Regions from separate parts of the Homo sapiens genome. Here region 2 is linked to region 1. Evidence: fine-mapped expression QTL. Tissue or cell type: whole blood. Region 1 holds a variant in brackets; the other region holds the start of a gene. All regions are shown on one strand. Distances are from middle to middle. Region 1 overlaps GRAMD2B (GRAM domain containing 2B). Region 2 holds the start of GRAMD2B (GRAM domain containing 2B).

What was found.
Region 2: it holds the start of GRAMD2B, and the variant in region 1 is fine-mapped to the expression of GRAMD2B in whole blood (INTERVAL, PIP 0.91).

Annotation. Positions count from the first base shown.
Region 1 is chr5:126,461,466-126,466,844 of GRCh38, reverse strand. GRAMD2B (GRAM domain containing 2B) reads right to left here. Exons shown (of 14, transcript NM_023927.4): 2 at 1,300-1,419. Among named protein-coding and RNA genes, the nearest start is that of GRAMD2B, 41 kb to the right of the region's middle. The variant A/G (reference allele first, on the strand shown) is at 3,164.
Region 2 is chr5:126,421,120-126,426,498 of GRCh38, reverse strand. GRAMD2B (GRAM domain containing 2B) reads right to left here and starts at 3,090. Exons shown (of 14, transcript NM_023927.4): 1 at 2,810-3,090. The coding sequence starts at 2,892. RefSeq lists a silencer at 2,986-3,115.

The sequences.
Region 1 (5,379 bases):
CCAACAGTGTTTTTAAGGTGCCTGCTGTAGTCAGCCAACAGTGGTAAAAGACATGAGAAATAATGTGCCTTGTGCCTTTGTGAAGAGAAGCATTAGGTGAGGCTTTGAGGGGAAACAACTAGAGGAAAAAAAATTGTTAAAGTGAGATGCTGGCCCTTTGGGAGGCCAAGGCCGGTGGATCACCTGAGGTCAGGAGTTCAAGACCAACCTGGTCAACATGGTGAAACCCTGTCTCTGCTAAAAGTACAAAAATTAGGTGGGCATGGTGGTGCATGCCTGTAGGCCCAGCTACCAGGGTGGCTGAGGGAGGAGAATCGCTTGAACCTGGGAGGCGGAGGTTGCTGTGAGCTGAGAATGTGCCACTGCACTCCAGCCTGGATGACAGAGCGAGACTCCGACTGGAAAAAAAAAAAAGGTGAGATGCCACAAAACAGCATGCAGGAAAGATGGAGAGATAATTGGGAATTAGAGTCAGAAGAGGAAAATTTCGGGAGGAGTTAAGACTTACTCTTGGTCCTGAATGAAGCATAGATTTGGAGAGAAGATATGGGCTGGGAAGCCAGGAAGGAAGCAAAAAGCGGAGTTAATAATCTTTTAGCAAAGACCAAAAGAAGTAGAAGGTAGCAGTTCTCAAAGTTCTAATAATGGTGAAGGACCACAATGATTTCTGTACTCAGTTTAGATAAACTGCACTCACCCATCACACACTGTTGGTTTAACCGCTATCTTTTAAGTGCCCCAAAGCAACTTTAGTCTCTACCAACTTTAGTCTCTACCAAATGGTAGTTGGTGCCTCTGAGAAAGATGAGGCTACAGCTACACATCTCAAAACCACCTCTCCCCTCCGGCCCCACAACCAAACCAACCCTCCCTCTTAGTCTGTCACAGGAAACTGGTGGCCTGGTGGGTCCCCGGGATGGGGATTCTTTTCCTCGGCTTTTTTTCACGGCCCCTAGGAAAGTGAGACACCAGGTGTGCACACCCAAGGCCGGGCAGACACTCCAACCTGGCCAGCCTTCCCAGCTTTCTAAACATATGCCAGAGAGGGGTCCACCCTGGCCTCATCACTTAGCAAAATCAGCGCTTTCAGAAAGGTGCAGATGCTCTGCTGAAGGCTGGGGCAGGAGGGAGAAAAAGATGCTACCTGGGTATCAGGGAAAAATGCTCATTCTTTCTCAGGAGTATTATTTGTCTATAGTATTAATACATCCTCACTCTTAACAAAAAACCCCTGCTCCTCCTGTAACGCCTTCTCCCCAAAAGACAAAAGAGAACAAAGAGAGTCAACGGAGGACTTACCATAGGCTAATGATTTTCTTCTGGTCTGGGGAGTCCGCCTCCACAGATGGGGTAGGGGATTGGGCTGTTGGCGACCTGCAGGCTTTCTTTTTCTCCTCCACACCATTCTCAGCCTCTGAGCTGAAGAAGAAAGGAAACCGCTTCACTTTAGACATTCAGAGAGAGGTAGCTGGAAGGAAAACGATGAAGTAACATGGTTTTCTAGAGAATGGAATGATTTTCATTCCTCACTGATAGGCTAGTTAACTTTGACAGCGAGGCCCTTTCCCAATCTCCATTCTAACCCCTTGCCTGGTGTCCCAACGGCAGTAGCTGCAGGTCGCACCTGTTTCACTTGTAAATGCCAGACTGTGTGGACTTGCTGGCTCCCAGGTCTGTGCTGCCCAGCTCTGCTCTGCATGGGCTGTGCTGGGGCAGCAGATCACCTGGAGGCTGGGAGCGCCCTGCACAAGCACACACGCACATGTACACACGCTCACGTGTGGCCTCCTGCAGGTGTGAGCCTTCCTGCTGGGAACCCCCACCCCTTTTGTTTGCATTTCTCTTATGTCACTTACATGTTGTTTAACCAAGCAGTTCCCTAAGCAATTTACAGTCTCTAATCTTTACAACCACCCAGACTAGGTAGGAATTACTACCCTCATTTTACAGATGAGGAATCTGAGGCTCTTGCTATCTTGCCTAAGTTCAGAGAGCTAGCATCTATCTTACTTGAGATTCAAACTTAGTATGTCTGTCTGCAAAACCTTTGTGTTCTCTCTCTCCATTCATCCCCCCAACCACCTACTCATCCATTTATCCTCATAATTAACTCTTCAGTGTGAGAGCTCCAGGGCAGAGTGGGAATCTTACTCATCTTTGTCTTAACCACGGGGTCTAGGATAGTGTTGACTTACAGTCATGATCAATAGGCGTTGGAAAAACTAGGTCTGACCTTGGTAAAAGAGAAGGTGGAAGGGAGTAGAGGGGAAGGTGAGTCAAGAAGGTTTGTGCATAGAACCAACAAACAGAGGACAACCAGCTTGGGGGATGCAGAGGTGAGTTCCCTCAGTCGGCCGGTGAAGATCTCTTGGGAAGCAGGGGAAACCACTTCCAATGGGAAAGTGGGAAAGGAAGGGATGTTGAAGGAAGAATACAAAATGTTATTTATGGATCAGAACTTCTTTGGTGTGTCAGCTCAGTAAAACACAAACGATACTTCTGAGGATGTGAGGACTCCATGGAGACTGAGCCTAAAGAAAGACATGTTAAGATGGCATTGCTATGAGAGATTAGCTAATCTTCACTTTCATTTACCACCTATTTGGTAGTCTCACCTGCATATGACTGTGCAGGCAGGAAATGCCACTGGATAGTTTAAGCTGTGTGGTTGCTTTGCTGATCACTTTTCACAGCATATGAAAATTGCAGCCTAGGCGAGGAGTCCTATTGTAGTGTCAGAATCAAGGCCAGTATATCTGACAAGGGTATCTAACTAATAACACCCACAGATGGTTGATGCTCTTTTTTTTTTTTTTGAGATGGAGTTTCACTCTGGTTGCCCAGGCTGGAGTGCAGTGGCACGATCTCGGCTCACTGCAACCACTGCCTCCTAGAGATTCTCCTTCCTCAAGATTCTCCTGCCTCAGCCTCCCAAGTAGCTGGGATTACAGGCGCACGCCACCATGCCTGGCTAATTTTTGTATTTTTAGTAGAGACGGGGTTTTGCCATGTTGGCCAGGCTGGTCTCGAACTCCTGACCTCAGGTGATCTGCCCACCTTGGCCTCCCAAAGTGCTGGGATTACAGGCGTGAGCCACTGCACCCGGCCAAATGGTTGACGCTCTTAATTTTGTGGTAAGCATTTCTCTTTTCCTAGTAGATAC[A/G]TATCTGAGGACAGAGGTCCAACCTTCTATTTCTTCAATTTTTCTCCAAGTACTTAAAACAGTTACATACATTAAAAGGGCTCAGTCCATAACAGAATTGCATTATGTGACAAAGGTACATGGAAGGCTGAGGCATTGAAATATTATTAGGAAAACCCTGTTTTGGTTTAAAATAATAATTGGACTTTATTAAACTTAGCACCAAGTTTAATTTGTGGACTCAAAGAATTTTAGAATAGTTAAGAGGCCTTAAAGCACATCTCTGCCTTTTTTCGCTTCCCCCAAGACACAAACACATTATCTCTTTTCTTCAACAGATTCAGGCAGAAATCTACTTGAGAAGCCCTCTTTAAGTAGAGACTGGGTATAGAACTTCAATAATCCATCTCAACATTTATTCAGATATTTACTGGATTTTATGCAGGATCAGATGAAGACTTAGAGGGAGAGCTGGAGCTGTCCTATACAGCATCTTTGTGTACAGAGAGCCACTCTGCAAAAGGTGCTCCTGGCAGAGATAAGGTGCTTCTTGCTCTTGGCAGAAACAGCCCAGCACCAAGGTCAGAAGGCAGCAAAACTGAGGCTAGATTTCAGCTCCTCTTTGACCCTGACCCATCTTGGTCAGGCATTTGTGTGCAGTGCAGGTGACTTAAGTGCTTAACCACATAAGGTGGTCCTGTTTCGGGACCCCTAGCTTAGCACTGAAAAGATTACAGTGCATGCCTCTATATTGTCCTACTAAAACAATGTCTTTCAAGGATGGAACATACAGTGTACTCAAAGTAGCTTTTTTCTACATACTCTCCACTTCACTTCTCCTTCAACTTGTGTCTTGTCTTCAGCACTGGTTCTCTCCTTGAAGGCCCTAGCCAGGGGACACATCCTCCACACTGCTTAAAAGTCTCTATGCTGCCTGCTGATTTTATAACTCACTAGGCATCTAATTAATTAATACCTTGTACTGGTACCTTTTCTCCCAAAAATCTTAGTTATCCAGCACTAAACCAAGTTCCTTAAAGGCAGGGAATGTCTGGTTTTTTTCCACAGCACTCAGCTCAGCATTTGCTCACAGTGGTCATTTATACGTTCAATGATATGGATTAATTATGTAGTATCTCAAAGAGGAAGTGAAATTCATCTACGAGTCAATTTGATCTTAGGTTTTTGCTTAAAGATGCTACAGGCTCAAGCAAGTTAATTCCTCACACAGGCAAGATTATTCCTGCAAGCGTCCCTTACCTTGGAGGTCTTGTCAGCAGCAGACTGAAACTATGTAGAATTCAAGCAGCAGAGGCTAGCGTGTGTTTGAGTGAGCAGCGTGGGAGGGGAAATGGAATGCTTCCTCAAGGCCTTTTGGAAACTTTTAAGTTACTGTCAATGAAGCTGAACCAGGCCACTTAGTAACTTTAAAGTTACGGTCAACGAAGCTGAACAGGTTTCATTTAAATCATGAAAATAAGGAAATCAGTTTTTATTTATTTTTTAACCAGAAGACAAAGCCCTGTTACGGACTTTGACTAAAAGAGTCAACTGAAAAAACAAACCAAAAAACCAATCCTCCTTTTTCAACAAATATTTACTGGACTTGTCCCTGTTGTCAGGGTGCTCAGAGCTTTGTAGATGAGACAGGTAAGTGAGCTGGCAGGTGTAAGTATCCACAGAAGCAGTAGAAAATGCTGGAGACACAGGACCAACCTTTACTTGGCCTTGGCAGGTTATTTCTCCTCCCATCTCCAACCCACTTTAAGCATCAGTTATGGTCCCTGCCTGAAAGGCTTTTAGTAGAAATTTCAAAGCAGTGAGACAGTCATGCTTATAACAACTAAACCTGACTTCACCTATTAGGGGAGAGCATTTTTATTTTTATTTATTTATTTTTTTGAGATGGAGTTTCACTCTTGTCACCCAGGCTGGAGTGCAATGGCGTGATCTCTGCTCACTACAGCCTCCACCTCCCAGGTTCAAGTGATTCTCCTGCCTCAGCCTCCCGTGTAGCTGGGATTACAGGTGCCTGCCACCATGTCTGGCTAATTTTTGTATTTTTAGTAGAGACGGGGTTTCGCTGTGTTGGCCAGGCTGGTCTCGAACTCCTGGCCTCAAGTGATCCACCTGCTTCGGCCTCCCAAAGTGCTGGGATTACAAAGCATAAACCACCATGCCCAGCCAGGGAACAGCATTTTTATTACTGGCTAGGACAATCTTGTTTCAATAAAACA
Region 2 (5,379 bases), 40 kb after region 1:
TGTACAAACTAAACTGTCAATAAACATTAATTGTTAATTAATCGTCATAATAACAGCAGATAAATTCTATGAGGCGGAAGCCACATATGTACAAGGTGAGCACTGGTAAAGAAGAGATGAGTATGGCCAGTAATGAAGGAAGGCTTCACATGAAGGAAAACTTGAGTTGATTTCTAGAAGTAGATGAAGAGAGAGGAGAGAGGGGAAAGGAATAGCAGTAAGGAAAAGTGAAGACAGAAGGGGATTCATTTGCTCCTATGTTTGGCATACCAGTTCCTTATTCCTTCTGCATATCACTTCTTTTTTTGAATTTTATAAGAAATATATTTTTAAATTATTTTAAAATTAATATTATTTTTAATTGACAAATCATAATTGTTTACATTTATGGGGTACAGGGTAATGTTTTGGTATATGTATACAATGTGGCATGATTAAATCAAGCAACATACCTATGGTCTTGCTTACCTATCATTTTTTATGGTGAGACATTTGAAATTTACTCTTAGTTATATTGAAATATACAACATATTATTATTCACTAATCTCCTTGCTGTGCAATAGAACTCAAAACTTATTCCTCCTAACTGAAACTTCGTACCCTCTGATCAACTCCCTATTCCCTCCTTCCCCACCCTTTCTACCTTCCAGCGCCTGGAAACCACCATTCTACTCTCTATTTCTATGAATCCAACTTCTAAATTTATTTTTAAATTAAATTAAATTTTAGTTTTGAGACAGGGTCTCACTCTGTGTCCAGGCTGGAATGTAGTGGCATGAACATGGCTCACTGTAGCCTCAACTGCCTGGGCTCAAGAGATTCTCCCACCTCAGCCTCCCGAGCAGCTGGGACCACAGGTGTGCGCCATCATGCTTAACTTATTTTTTTTTGTCTGTAGAGACAGGGTCTCACTTTGTTGCCCAGGCTGGTTTTAAATTCCTGGGCTCAAGTGATCCTCCAGCCTCGGCCTCCCAAAGTGTTGGGATTATGGGCATGAGCCACAGTCCCTGCCTGGCCTGAGTCAACTTTTTCAGATGTCACACTTAAGTGAGAACATGCAGTGTTTGTTTTTCTATTCCTGGCTTATTTTGTCTAACATACGTCCTCTAGGTTCATCCATGTCACAAATGATCTTTCTTTTTAAAGGCTGAATAATATTGTGTATATATACCACATTTTCTTATCCCTTTATCCATTGATAGACACTTAGATTGATTTCGTATCTTGTGTATATAGCACATTTTCTTATCCATTCATCTGTTGATGGACACTTAGGTTGATTTCATATCTTGGCTATTGTGAGTAATGTGCAATGAACATGGGAGTGCTGCATATCACTCCTTTAAGTATAGGGCTGCTAGTATGATTGTTTGGCTATAAAAGATGTGCATGCTGACTAGTATTAGGAAGTGAGGTTGCAATGGTCTGTGTGGGTCCAGATCATGAAGGATCTTAAAATCTTGGCAGAGAAGCCTATTTTTAAGAGTAGGCCATGGAAGGCCATCATAGATTCTGGAACAGAGGAACCAGTGTACAGCATAGTGGTTCTAAGTTCATGCTGTAAAGTTAGGAGACCTGGGCTTGAATCCTGGCTGCTCTTTTATTAACTTTGTGACTCTGCCTAGCTGCTTAGCTTCTCAGAGCTTCAGTGCTTTTATCTGCAACATGGAAATAATAGCACCTGCCTCATTCTTTGTGAGAATGCATTTAAAGTATTGAGCACACTCCCTGTCACATAGTAAGCATTCTCAGTAAGTGCCAGCTACTATTATTTAGGAGGCTAAGGCTCTAGGTGATGAGGTCTACATGGGTGCAGTTACAGACGCAGGGAAATTGTGAGGAGCAAGTCATTCTAATCCTCTTAGAAGAAATGTCCATGGGGACACCCAGACTTCAACAAGACTTTGAGCCTAGTGATAATTAATGTAAGTTATGAAGTTCAAAACAGAAGTTAGACCGGGTTTCTAAGCACAAAAATTTGGCAACTTAAAATGATTTCAAAGTGGAATTATCACATCAGTATAACCTTATGATAATACATATCCCTCCTTCCTAAATTACTCATATCCTGATACCAGAACAAGAGTTTTAGAGCTCAGAAGGGTTAGTGTCTAAAATCATAGACTGAATTAGAAGTGACTTCAGTAGGCTTAGAAAATACCACTTTGTAGGAAAAAAACAACCTCTCCTCCCAAACCAATTTTACCAAAGACTGCAAAATAGATAAATATTTTAAAAGTAGAGAAGACTCAATTATAGGCTAAACTCTTTATCATACCTTGTCTGTGTGTTTAATGTGGCAATGGTCACCAAAGTCCCTTGAAGTACAGTAATATTCATTTGTGCCTCCCCCATCCCCACTCTGCTCTTGAAGTTCCAGAAGGGCAGATCCAAAATAACATTTATCCTTGTATTGCCCATCGTTATTGAACAAGTAGATACTCAATTATTTGCTGAACTAAAATGAATTTGTGAAAATGGTCATTCTAAACGAAGGGCTGTGTTGGGACTTTGAGCTTCAATGTGGTTAGGCTTATTTTCTACAAAATTATTTTCCCAACATCCAGTGAGTTTTGAATTAAGAGAATTTGTTTAAATCCTACAGTAGACTTTTCAATCAATCTAAACCATCTCCTTAACTGAATATCTAGACAGAGAGAGAGAGTGAGAGACAGAGAGAGCGCGCCACAAGATTGTCCATATAGGAGCTCCAGAAATCCGCATCCACCCAAAATGCGTCCCGGGGCAGAGAAGTTTAGGCTGCGCTCCTCCCACCTCCTTGGATGGGTCCCAGCTGAGAATACTCACTGGGCTGAGCCAAGTTTGCTCTCCCTCTTCCCGAGCACTTTCGCAGGCTTTGTGTCTTCCACATCTTGCTGTAGTTCAGTCATCGGGGCCGTGTCTGGAGGGCACCTTCAGACTTCCGCGCGCCTGGCTCTGCCCCGGCTCGTCCCGGCTTCTAGGTCCGGGTGCGCAGGCCAAGCAAGCGGCGCCGTGCCCTCCCCTGCACCCTCCGCCCAGCGCATCCAGGCCGGGCCGCGCCAAGCTCCCGGGGCCGCGGACCTGGACACGTCGGAGCGGGCGCGATTGGTCCGACCCACTGTGGAAAAGCCGAGAGGGAGGGAAGGGGAGGGTCGAAGCGAAGTGACAGCCTCTTTCCCCAACCCAGGAGGCAGAGAAGAGAAAAAGGAAACCTGTTGAACGAGTCTTTCGGGAGAGGAAGCTAATTGGCCAAGCAGGTGGAACATTTGCCTAAGAAGGCACAATCTGTTTAGCCTCCTGGTAAATTAAGCTTTTTGTTTTCTATCCCGACTGTAACAGGGGGATTTTTAGAGGGCAGCCGGCTCTAGATACCGGAAATGGAGACGTCTGAGTGGGACGCCCTGTCACACAAATGCGCTGTGTGGGCTGGCCTATGCCCCATCCTAAATTATTCAAACAGGATATTGCTTCATTGAGGGACTGCCTCTTCTGCTTAAACAATAGGTCTGCTCAATTTTTTATGTGGGAATAACAAAGGTAATAAGTAGTTGCCTTTGGTGGTGTTTTGGTTAACCCTTCATCGTTCTGGGGTGGGGGGGGTGGTTAGAGGGGCAAAGAAGAAGCAACCATCAAAATCTTCAAATATTGGGTTATGACTGTTCTCATCAAAATCAAAATTGGTGTTTGATAATTCCCAAGCCGTCTCTTTGTTGCCCATAGTTGTGCAAGTACCTTATTTACTATGCACTCAACCAGTACCGTGAATGCCTCTTCTTCCCACCTTTTGGTGACATTTTGACTTGCCTGTTCTAAGGTTTTGTATTGGAAGCATTCACTCATTCATTCATTGAACAAACTTTTGAGAGCTACAAAGTTCCAGGCATTGTTCTCAATCAGGGGTGTCCAATCTTTTGGCTTCCCTGGGTCACATTGGAAGAAGACGAACTGTCTTGGGCCACACATAAAATATACTAACACTAAGGATAGATGATGAGCTTTAAAAAAGGTCTGTGCAGGGGCCAGGCACGGTGGCTTACGCCTGTAATCCCAGCAGTTTGGGAGGCCGAGGCGGGTGGATCATTTGAGGTCAGGAGTTCGAGACTAGCATGGCCAACCTAGTGAAACCCCATCTCTACTAAAAATACAAAAATTAGCTGGGTGAGGTGGCGCAGGCGCTTGTAATCCCAGCTATTTGGGAGGCTGAGGCAGGAGAATCACTTGAGCCTGGGAGATGGAGGTTGTGGTGGGCCAAGATGCACCACTGCACTCCAGTCTGGGCAACAGAGTGAGACCCTGTCTCAAAAAAAAAAAAAAAATCCGTGCATAAATGTCACCATGTTATAAGACAGTTTATGAATTTGTATTGGGCTATATTCACAGCTGTTCTGGGCTGCAGGTTGGGCAAGCTTGTATAAACATTGACTTGTTATAGCAAATGACATTTGTATTGGTGGTTTTCTAATTTGCAATGGAGTAGTTGACAATTAGAATAATTAATATAAACGTTATTATTGGAAGCCTGACTTGACTTCAAAACAATTACAAGTGGCAACAGTAGAGCATGACATGCCTGGGAAAAAACGACTAACTATGTTCTGGGGCTGCAAGTCCTTCATTTTTCTCTTAAAATAAAGTTTAGATTTAAGAGTATTACAAAGACTATACAACCATAGTATGTACATGTATGTATGTAGTTTGTAGGGTGTATGTGTGTGTAAAACACCTAACCTTCTAAATAACTTCAAACATTTTGGAGGTGCAAGTTCTTTCCAAAGTTTTCTTATTCCTTCTCTTTTTACATATATATCATTAGGCTGAGAGAACAAAAGCATCTTTTTGTAGCCTGCTTGCTCCAAAATTGATGTTTGTGACATTTGAAAAATAAGTAAAAGAAAAAGCTTACATAAATTCCAGAAGAGTTGGCTTAGTCAGGCCTCTCTCTCTTTTTCTTTCCTGACCACTGACTGCTTTGCTATAGGAGCTGTGCTAGGTGGGATGGGGAAAACTCTGGGTGACCTGAAAGCTTGAAGGCTGTCTCCTTGGTGCCCATAGTTGCCTCTTCCTGGGGACATTCCTGATGCCTTCACCTCTAGATCCCCACCCTCCTCAGAATAGGGATAGGTTTGGAACAGAGATGAGGTTGTCAATTTCCCAAACTCTGGATGAGGACTCTCAGATCTCAGGTGCACTCCAACTTCTCATTACAGAGCTCAGATCAGACTGACTTTTCCCCGCTAAGTAATTTATTTATTGTGGTAAAATATACATAACATTACTATTTATCATTTTAATAAGTGTATAATTCAGTGGCATTCAACACTTTCACAATGTTATTTAACTATCACCACTTATCTGTACCCAAAACTTTTTTTTATCATCCTTGGCATAAACTCCCA